Regions from separate parts of the Homo sapiens genome. Here region 1 is linked to region 2. Evidence: fine-mapped expression QTL. A gene starts in region 2. The other region holds a variant in brackets. All regions are shown on one strand. Distances are between the middles of the regions.

Region 1 (5,373 bases), 75 kb before region 2:
GGCATTGATTATTATTAATAATATTAATTTATTATTAATAAATAATAACATTTATTGTTAAGGATAGTTTTCTCTATCCTGACCACTGGAGGAAAACACTGTAAATGCCCAGAAATAAAGTTTTGACTAAATAGATTCTGGTTTACTCACATGATGAAATATTATGCAACTATTATAAATATATTTTGAAAGAATGCTTAATGATCAAACAATTCACCCACAATACATTTTTAACAGCCTTATTGAGATATAGTTCATATGTGATATAATGTATTCATTTAAAGTATGTAATTCAATGGTTTTTTTTTTTTTTTAGTATGTTCACAGAATTCTGTAACAATCAATTTTAGAATGTTTTCATTCCTCAAAAAGAAACCCTGCCATTAGGAGCCACTTCCATCACCCACTTCCCAAACCTCCCAGCCTTGGGCAACCACTAATCTACTTTTCTGTCTCTACAGATTTGTCTTTTTTAAGCATTTAATGTCAATGGGTATGTATCAGTGGATATGATATGTGGACTTTTGAAATTGGCATCTTTCACTTAGCATAAGGTTTTCAAGGTTTATTTATGTTGTAGAATGTGTCAGTACCTCTCATTGCTGAATTACATTTCATTGTGTGGATATACCACATTTATTTATTCATCCAGCTGTCAATGGATATTTGGGCTGTTTTCATTTTTTGGCTATTATGAATAATACCACTATTAACATTTAAGTACAATTTTTTTTCTGTGGGTGCAAGTTTTTATTTCTCTTGGGTCTATACATAGGAGTGGAATTACTGGATCAGATGGTGACTCTATTCTTGACTCTGTGAGGAGCTGCCAGACTGTTTTCCAGTGCAGCTGCACCATCTTCTATTCCCAGCAGCAGTATACAAGAATTCCAATTTTTCCACATTCTCACCAACACTTGTTATTATTTGTATTTTTATTATAGCCATCCTCACTGTGGTTTTGATTTGCATTTTCCTGATGGCAAATGACATTGAACATATTTTCATGTGCTTATTGGCTATTTGTATATCTTCTTTGGAGAAATATCTACTCAGATCCTCTGGTCATTTCTAAATTGGGTTATTTATCTTTCTATTATTGAGTTACAAGAGTGCTTTGTATATTCTGGATACAAGCCCCTATCAGTTATATGATTTGCAAATACTTTCTCCCATTGTGTGGGTTACCTTGTCATGTTATACAAATTTATAATTTCTAAGTATTTTTCAATTACCTACTATATGCCATGAAACTGTGAAGTAGCCCAAAGATGCAGAATACAGATACTTTCTCTCCCAAGAAAGTACTAGTAAAATATTCAAAAGATAGTATAAGGTAAAGTGCTAGTATTAAAAGAATCCATTCATGAACATATAAGATTCCAAGTTAGAACCCCGGGCAGTCAGAGTGGGCCTCATGGAGGAGGTGGGCCTCATAGAATGAGCAGCAATCAACAGGGCAGAAGCAGGGAAGAGTCAAGGTAGAAGAACAAAAGCGTCCAAACCAGGTGGTCATGGTTGGGGGGTAGTGCAGTATGGAGACCTACACCTCAGTCAGGGTTACAGGACAGTGATGTCAGGGAGAGGACCTGGAATTTAAATCTGCCCCCACTGTGGGCTATGATAAGGGAAAGAGATGAGGAAACCAAGGTAAAGAAAATTATGTTTGAGTAAGATTTATCAAGCACCAAAGGCAGAATCAACTAGGGGGAGCACTGAGATTGAGAAGAGCCTAGAGGCATGGGCCTAACCTAGTTGGTTGCAGCCAGGGTTGGAGAGTTCAAGAAACAGTCTGAAGTCCGTTGAGGGAACTTATAATCAACTATGTGATCTTGGGTGGGTCCTGGCCCCTTGCCTGGCCTAAGGATCCTCTGTAAAATCAAGCATGTATCCACCAGGAGGATTTTCAGCTGCAAGTAATAAAACACTAACAAGCAGTGGCTTAAGCAATAAATATATTAATTATCTCTCATAACAAGAAATCCAGAGTTAGACTGCTTTGGTCTTGGTGCAGTGGCCCAGTGACATCATCAAAGATTCCAACCTCTTTCTACTTTCCTGCTCTGCCACCATGGGCGTGTTGGCTTGCACCCAGGATCACACAACGTCTGCTGCAGCTCTAGAACATCCAATGTGCTCAAGGCAGGACACGGATTCGAAGACAGCACCAGGCTCATCTGAACTTTCTATTAGGACAGTAAAACTCTCGTAGAGTCCTCCAGGAGACATGCTTTGTTCTTCATTGGCCATGATTAAGTCTCACGTCCCCAACCCCAGCTAGAGGAGCATCTGGGAAAACGGAAACAGAATTGTCCTGACTGGCTTAGGCCAACCATGCTCCATTGCCTGTATGAGAATTCTGTTAGCTGGGACAAGGGATAGGCATTGGGAAGAGAATTAACCCAGGGACTGAACAAGGCCCCTCCCAATGCTCACAGCCCACGGGGTTCTCTCATCTCCAGCTGTTCTGCTTTGTGGCTCCTCTCACCCGCTTCCTGCAACTGCTTCTTCCCTTCTTATTTGGCCTGTAGAGAAAGCAGCTGCTCTCTCTCTATCTCTTTGTTTTGATGAACTTAAAAGTCGATTCCATCAAACAACCCTTTTCTTCCATCAATGCCAGTCAGACTGACTTTCCTAGCATGGCCAGTATTTTAATCACTCAAAAATTGAGGCGTGATTATGGACCCCCACCCCTGCCACTCAGTGATGAGCACAGCCTCTGTGTGTCCCTCTGGTTGTACCCTGCCTCTGCCTCGATGCTCTTGTGGCATTCATTTAATTTTTCATCCTGAAATTTCTCCTTCAAGTCCATCATGTGGAACATGTGACACCCCCAGCCCTGCCTGGCCCTCCTTCCTCCCAAGGGCCTGTGCCGAGTGTGACAGTCATCAGAGGCTCTGCCTCAGCTCAGCCACAGGCCCTGAAAGGTAACTGGACAAAGATTACTTGAGCTTCCTAGAGCCCCCTACAATGCCTACACAGGGCCCATCAGGTGAGGGACTACGGTCGATGACTGTCACGAGGAGGA[G/C]TTGTCCACATGGCCACCAGCCGACCTGGTTCCAAAGTTCTCAGGGACCTCGTACATTAAAGTTTCCCACATCTGGCCAGGCACAGTGGCTCATGTCTATAATCCCAGCACTTTGGGAGGCCAAGGCAGGTGGATCACCTCAGGTCAGGAGTTTGAGACCAGCCTGGCCAACATGGGGAAACCCTGTCTCTACTAAAAATACAAAAAGTAGCCAGGTGTGGTGGCACATGCCTGTAATCCCAGGTACTCAGGAGGCTGAGGCAGAGAGAATCGCTTGAACCTGGGAGGCGGAGGTTGCAGTGAGCTGAGATCATACCACGGCACTCCAGCCTGGGCAACAGAGCAAGACTCCATCTCAAAAAACAAAAAAAAAAAGTTTCCCACGTCTGTGACCAGGGCTGGGTTGGAGCCACGTATAAGCCAGCCCAGCTCTTGGAGAGAGTTTGTTTCCAAGGTTCTTTCCTATCACTTAACTGCTCATCTGACCCAGGCATGCCCAACCGGCACCCACTGCCACCTCCTTAGTCTGTTGCAGTGCAGCATTTTAATTCAAATTGTTTCCTCTCTCCTCTATTTCATCCCTCAAAATTACACAGGGCAATATCTCCTATTTCTATACCACGTGCACTATTGTTTTCATCTCCTCATAGCATCTGTATAATCATATCTTCATATTTTTACACGAACTGTCTGTTCTTGCTTAAATACATTTTTTTAAAATAAAACTTTATATCACTATCCCCCATGGAAAACAAACATTATTTTCCTGAAATGGACAGTAACTACAAAAATAAATGCAATGAAAACAAAACAATGGCAACCTGGTACTGCATAATAAACAGTATTTGTGTAGAGTAGGTGAAAAAGCTGGAAGTATTAAGAAGATGGAAGGTGCATCAGCCCCCTGAGAAGGCGGTGCACAGGGACACCCGTGATGAGAATATGGAGGAAGACTGAGCTGCAATTACTCAGCTCACTCAGAGGCCGCTAGGTCTGGATTTGGTCCAAATAGCTGGGAGAGATTTTTAGACCAAACTTCACAATTCAGCATTTTCTGTGTTTCCCCCTCTTGCTGGTATTCTATCCTAAGCGTATTAGACACCTCCCGATGCCTGGTGCCTTTGTCTTTGAATTTCTGATGATGGTGGCAATGTGTGGTAGGGATGGGGGATCTTTCTGACTCTGGCAGGACGAAGTGCCTGTCCATGTTCACTTTGGGGCCCATTCTGGGATGCTTGGGCCAAAGGTGGAGAGGAAGAAATGCAGGACCACAACAATATCCTGTCCCCAGGTGCTGCGCCCATGTATTTGGGTACAACTTCAAGCCCCATGGTTGTCCTAAGGCAATGGATGGGGTTTTCCACAAAGGTGATCCAAGAGAGGCAAGGATGCTTCTAATGTGGGTGAAAACATCTCAAGCAGAGTTAAGTTGCAACACTAATGATCATGCAGAAGCCTAACATTAATATAGACGTGACAATGAAATCAAAGAGAAAACTTCCAAAACTGCCACCCTTTGGTCTCTGGAGTTCTTCAAGCAAGTGGCTTTGGATGCCCAGGGATATGGGCCAGGAGAAGCTATATGAGAAGGTGCTACCTAAGAAGCTCTTGCATTCCAGGCATGAGGAACTAAGCAGGAAGCAACATCTGTGAAGTACTGGAGATCTTGCTGAGGATTTAGCCAGACATGCTTTTGACTTCTAGCTTTGGCATCTAGGAGCTGTGTGACCTCAGGAAGTTGCATAACCTGTCTCTGAGCCTCATCAATTAGATGAAGCTGGCAATACTTATCTCACAGTGCTGTTGCAAGGATTATTATTATTATTATTGTTATTATTATTATTATTTTGAGACAGAGTTTTTGCTCTTATTGCCCAGGCTGGAGTGCAATGGCCTGATCTCAGCTCACCGCAAACTCTACCTCCCAGGATCAAGTGATTCTCCTGCCTCAACCCCCCGAGTAGCTGAGATTACAAGCATGCGCCACCATGCCTGGCTAATGTTTTATTTTTAGTAGAGATAAGGTTTCTCCATGTTTGTCAGGCTGGTCTTGAACTCCTGACCTCAGATGATCCGCCCACCTCGGCCTCCCCAAGTGCTGGGATTATAGGCATGAGTCACTGCACCTGGCCCGCAAGGATTAAACTTAAAAGCACATGTAAAACACCAAGTGCAGTATCTGGCATATTGTAGATGATCACTAACAGTAATTTTAAAATTATTATTCTCATTTTCCCTGGATTTGTCTGACATGGTAGGACTACACTGGCCCTATTTTCTAAATAAACCAACAAAGGAGCAAATAAAGAGAAGCCAAGAGCAATCTGTTCTATGACAAAAAGAAT
Region 2 (5,373 bases):
AGAAAAAAATCAAAACCATGCGGGGTGTTTTCCTAACTTGTGTGTGTGTAGAATGCTGATGGGACACCAAACACACACACTCAGGTTCAGAGCAGGCACCCCAAATCGCATGCATAAGGGAAGGGAAGCCCGCAGGAAAGAGGCGTCCCTCCCCAAGGAATGGTGTCCACCTCAACACACAGCCCTGAGGAAGTTCAGCAAGCTGGATGATCCGCGGAATTGCCTCAGTTTACCAGCTCTCCGGAGAGCGGTGGCCCTGGCGGCTGTGAGTAAACAGGCCTGTGCTTAGTGAACCATCCGCTCGAGCGGGTGTGTGTCTGCTAGGGACTTCTGCACTTCCTTTTAGGAGCCAAACATCCTACAGATCCCTCCCCGGCAAGTGTCACTCACGCCTCCCATTTCCCATAGATGCCTTCTCTTCCCCTTCCTTCCCCAGAAGCCCCTCCCCTCTGACCTCCACCCACAACTCCGGGAGGACTAAGTTGCCCAAGTTGCCCAAGACTGGAGACCCAATCATTCCTCTCCTGCTTTCCTCTAACTCTCCCTGATGCCTTTCCCCGCCTCCTCCCCTCCTCCCAACCCCACCTCCGGCCTCTCCAGCTCAGGGCTGCAGCCTGGGGAGAGCTTCTGGGAAGGGTGGGATGCAGCTCCCATTTACCCCATGTCTTTTCGGCAACTTCTGGTGGCAGGGACATAGCAGCGGCTGGGGAGCAGGTCATAGATGGGCCTATCCTGGGCCCAGGTAAGGTCTTTATGCCAAGGCGGACATCTGGAGCCCTGGTCCAGGATGTGTCGACATACAGACAACAGAACGCATAGTCTAAAAACATAATTTAATGCATCGCGGTGAGTCTGAGTCAGGAGGGAATGCGGTGTGGAGAGGTGAATTTTCTGTTTGCTGGAATTCTGCTGTGGGTGGGGTTTTGGCTGATGGACAGGGAAATCTGCACAAGTATTTCGGGTCACAAAGAAGGACGCCCCAGGAAGCCCGCGCTCCCTCTGGCCTACCTCCCTGGCCAGGGCCCGGAGCCCTCCGCTTCTAGGCACTGGGAGGAGGCTGTCTGAGGAGGGCAGGCTCCCGGCCCTGCCTGTCCAGTCTAATCAGGTTTGCAAAGTCTGTGCCGCCGCCTCAAGGGCTCGGGCGTCCCTTCCTCCCTTGCCGGGATGGGGATGGAGACCAGGAGCACAGCCCTGAGCGTGGTGGGTCGCAGACGCACTGAGGCCAGGAGCGGGGCAGGGAGGACGCAGGGATTTGTCTTTTCCAAAGGAGATGTCAGGAAGTGTTATGAATCGAGAGTGGCCTTTGCCAAGGAGCCGCGCCCGGGCGGAGACCGGGCGGCCTGCAGCCACCCCGCCTCGCACCCCCCGCGCCCCTAATCCGGGTACAGAAGAAAGCCCGAGAACGTGCTGTACTTGTTATTATTGCCTCCGTGAGCCTTCCCGCCATCCAGCTTCACATACACTTCGTCCCCTGAATCCAAGTGCAGCACCACGCTGTTACTGGCGTAGTCGTAGTTCTGGTCGGCGTCCTGTGCAATGGCGCTGGCCCGGACCTGGGGACAAGCGGTGGGAGCAGGTGAGCCGGGGCACCTCTTCCCGCGCCTTTGCTCAGCCCACACCAGGCGCGCCACTCACGGGCCTCCCGCCTGCTGCTTCAGGGTCCACACTCCCACCCCAGCTCCATGTTCTCTCTCCAACTTAGTCAACTCCTTCCAGGTCCCCCCTCCTCCTCGCGCCGACGAGTCTGGGAAATAGGGAGAGGGGAAGCTTCATGAACACTGACCCAGAGTGGAAGGGTGGGAGCCAGGGGCCAGGGCCAAGAGGAAAGGAGGCTGCAGGGCAAGGGGGCGACCTGGAGAGAACTAAAGAACTGAGGTTTCCGAGAAGCCCACGGAGAGGCAGGCAGGGACGCAAGTGGCCAAGGAGTGTAGTTTAGGTATGGGGGTCTCTGGGCTCTCAAGGCCCAACATTTGGCTCTACGTCCCGGTGAGCGCGGCCTCGGCGCATCGGGAAGCGGAGATACTGTGGCACCGAGGCGCGTTCATTCCCGGGGCTCGCAGGGTAGCCCGCGGGTGGAGAGAAAGGAGGCTGGTTCCCTGGGAGGTTCAGGGCGCGGGCGAGGGTTTACGGGGGCCGGTGAGTGTAGGGGTCACTGACCTGCCCGTTCTTGCAGAGGTCCGCCCACATGCTGGTGCCGTCGCCGCCGCGCATGAGGATGTGGTAGGTGAAGAAGTAGATGCCGCGTACCTGGCAGCTGAACTTGCCCGTGGTGGGGTCATAGTGATTGCCGAGGTTGGTGACCACGTCATCGAACTTCAGCACCTCATAGCCTTCGTGGGGGCTCTTGAGACCCACATAGAAGGCGATCTTGGGGCCGCTGAAGGTGGCGCTCAGCGCACTGGTCACTTCACCCTCGGAATCGCCACCTACCCCGGCCCCGCCGCCCACCACCCCGACGCCGCTGGCCGTGCCCGCCGTCAGTTGCAGCCCTGGCAGCCCGGGCCGCCCCGAGTCGCCCTTCTCTCCCGGAGGGCCCCTGGGTCCAGGCGGGCCCGGCTCTCCAGGGGGCCCCCGCGGCCCTGGCTTGCCCGGTCGCCCCGGGTCGCCCTTGGGTCCCTGGATGAAAGGAGGAGGAGGGTTGGCGCTGAGGTCCTGCATGACTTCCAGGGCGGCGGTGCTGGGTCCGGGTGGCTGCGCCTTTGCACCCGGGGGCTCCCCGCCGGGCGCGGCAGTGTAAGGGTCGCAGATCATGCGGCAGGTGCCCATCATCTCATAGTGCGCGGCGCCTCGGGGCGCCGCCTGCAGCAGCAGCGGCACGGCGATGAGCAGCCCGAGCGCCATGGCCAAGAGTACGCCGACGGCCGCCAGGCAGGCACGCCGCCGCCGCTGCCACAGCCGGGAGGCGACCGCCACCAGCTCCTCCTTGCCGCCCGGGGAGGTAATGGTGGGGCGGCGCGGGCGGCCCCGCTCCCCGCGCTCGGGGACCGGCTCCGCGGGTCCTGGCCGCGCCCCCGACGTGGCGACCCCCAGCCCCGGCTACCCAACTACTTCAGCGAGAGGCGCCGGGACCTCTGAGCCTGGGCCCACCGCGCTGGGGCTGGTCGGGAGAGCCGCGGACGCCCGCGCGCATGACGTGGGGCACACAAGACGAATCCGGCGCCCCGAGGGTCCGGCGCCGGCCAGGGAGTGCTTGCGCTGGCCGGGGAGTCTGCTTGCGGCGTCCGGCGCTGGCTCCGCGGCGCTGCCTCCCGCCAGGCTCCGCTCCGCTGGGTTTAGTGGGGCTCCTAGCGCAGTGAGGGCGCCCCGGCTCCGCGGCGCGCTCTGCTGTGCTCTCTCGCTGTTCGCTGGCTCCCGCGCGGAGGGGGGACCCCGCTACCCTGACGTAAGGAGTCCGGGGCTGAGCGGCGGAGGCGGCGAAGCAGCGCGCGCTGCCATCACTCGGGAGACGGAGCCCTCATGTCATCAGCCTCCTATCTGGCGGCGTCCTCGGCAGAGGCGGTGAAGGCGCGGTTCCCCCTGGCGGCTCCCAGGAGCCACAAGTGGGCGCAGCGGGCGCGGTCCCAAGCCGGGGCACATCGGACACACCCACCCGCGGCCACACTCACGCGCCCCCCACCGATAACACACACAGACACCCACGCACGCAGTGGCGGGGCACGCACAGCCACCCCCACATGGCCACGAAAGCAGCTGGAATCCAGGTGTCAGCAGGGCTCCTCTGGGGTCACCTAATCCATCCCCTGGCCTGCAAAGAGGATCAAACCTCAACCCACCGAGTCCAGGAGAGTCCCGTGAGGTCCAGCGGGAAGGAGTTTCTGAAAGACCTCCTGAGTTATTTCTTCAGAATTGAATAGATCTCGCTTCTGGAAGATCTTTCGCAAACCTAGACTAAGGACTCCAGACTCTTAAACAGGCTCCCGTAGAGCACCCCACTAACCTCTGAGGTGACTCTAAAAAGCCCAAGGCTCCCAATACAAGAATATTTGCGGCCGGGCGCAGTGGCTCACGCCTGTGATCCCAACACTTTGGGAGGCCGAAGCGGGCAGATCACCTGAGGTTGGGAGTTTGAGACCAGCCTGACCAACATGATGAAACCCCGTCTGTACTAAAAACACAAAATTAACTGGGCATGGTGGTGCATGCCCGTAATCCCAGCTACGCGGAAGGCTGAGGCAGGAGAGTCGCTTGAACCAGAGAGGCAGAGGTTGCGGTGAGGCGGGATCGTGCCATTGCACTCCAGCCTGGGCAACAAAAGCAAAAGTCCATCTCAAAAAAAAAAAAAAAAAAAAGGAATATTCGCCTCAGACCTTTTCTTCCACCAGAAAATGGCTGGCCCTTGTCCTCTGCGTGAAGCTGGTGTAGAAACCAAATGCTTGATGCCGGCACTTGGCAGTGATCATGGTGCACTCAGCTTCTACTCCAAGCCCGGCCACTGCCAGGCAGATGCATGGGCACATTCCCTTGGACATCCCCAGCTTCCTCCTCCTGAGATGGGTTTAGTTATTTTAGAAAATAGTCCAAATAGTCCAAAGCCATTCTGAGCCAGTCTTGAATAAACCATGGCCTCAGATGAGAGCAGAATAGTCTATCTCCAATGTAGCATGTGAGGCTAAGGAAGGATGAGAGGCCCGCCGGTGTGGGAGAGACTTCCAGCGGAGAAATCAAAGCCCCAGCTTCTGCTCTTGCCCTGAGTAGCTGTGTGATTTTGCCAGGTGGTTCCTGTCCCTGAGACTCAGTTTCCTTAAAAGGCCGCCTCCTGCCCTAGCACCCCCAACATGGGAATCACACCAGGCCTGTCCTGGGGGGAGAATCTAAGGGCTGGTGTCAGTGTTTGGTGTAGCATCAGCATCTCTGGAACAACAGTGCACCCACCTAAGGCTATTGCTTTGAAGCTAACTCTCATTTGTCCTGCACTAGGTTCTTACGGGTTAATTAAAATCTATTTTTGTCCTCTGATCACCCTGGGTCATTTCCCCACTCCCAACCTCGTTGCTCTAGCCTGTTCTCTCCACATATATTTGTGGAAAGGATGACTGAGCCTAGCCGGAAGCCAACTTTACCAAGGAGAGAAGGAGCACATTTATTGGCACCTACTACGTATGCATCAGGCACTTTGCACGTGCTCCTTCATTCATTCCTCATGTTACTGTGGATTAGTGATCATTTTCCCACCGCACCAATGAGGAAAAAAAAAAGGTTTTGCAAGTGTAGGGTGTTTGCCAAGTGCATTTTACCCACATGACAGAGCCAGGATCCTCCCGGCACCCAGATCAGGGGCTATCTGAACCTGTCAGTGAACACAGCTTCAACAGCTACTTCTTGGCCACAGTCTTCACTGGTTTCCTCAGACTTGGGAGTCTTTCTCCACTCTCT

Evidence for each region. PIP is the estimated chance that this variant, and not a neighbour inherited with it, causes the effect. A credible set is the group of variants that fine-mapping cannot tell apart.
Region 1: its variant is the best candidate, but not a certain one, in a credible set for the expression of C1QL2 in lung (TOPMed, PIP 0.56).

Annotation. Positions count from the first base shown.
Region 1 is chr2:119,080,725-119,086,097 of GRCh38, forward strand. No RefSeq gene overlaps it. Among named protein-coding and RNA genes, the nearest start is that of C1QL2, 75 kb to the right of the region's middle. RefSeq lists a silencer at 4,963-5,129. The variant G/C (reference allele first, on the strand shown) is at 3,029.
Region 2 is chr2:119,155,429-119,160,801 of GRCh38, forward strand. It overlaps C1QL2 (complement C1q like 2), which reads right to left and starts at 3,323. Exons shown (of 2, transcript NM_182528.4): 1 at 2,158-3,323; 2 at 815-1,553. The coding sequence starts at 2,841. The coding sequence ends at 1,374. RefSeq lists an enhancer at 1,691-2,501.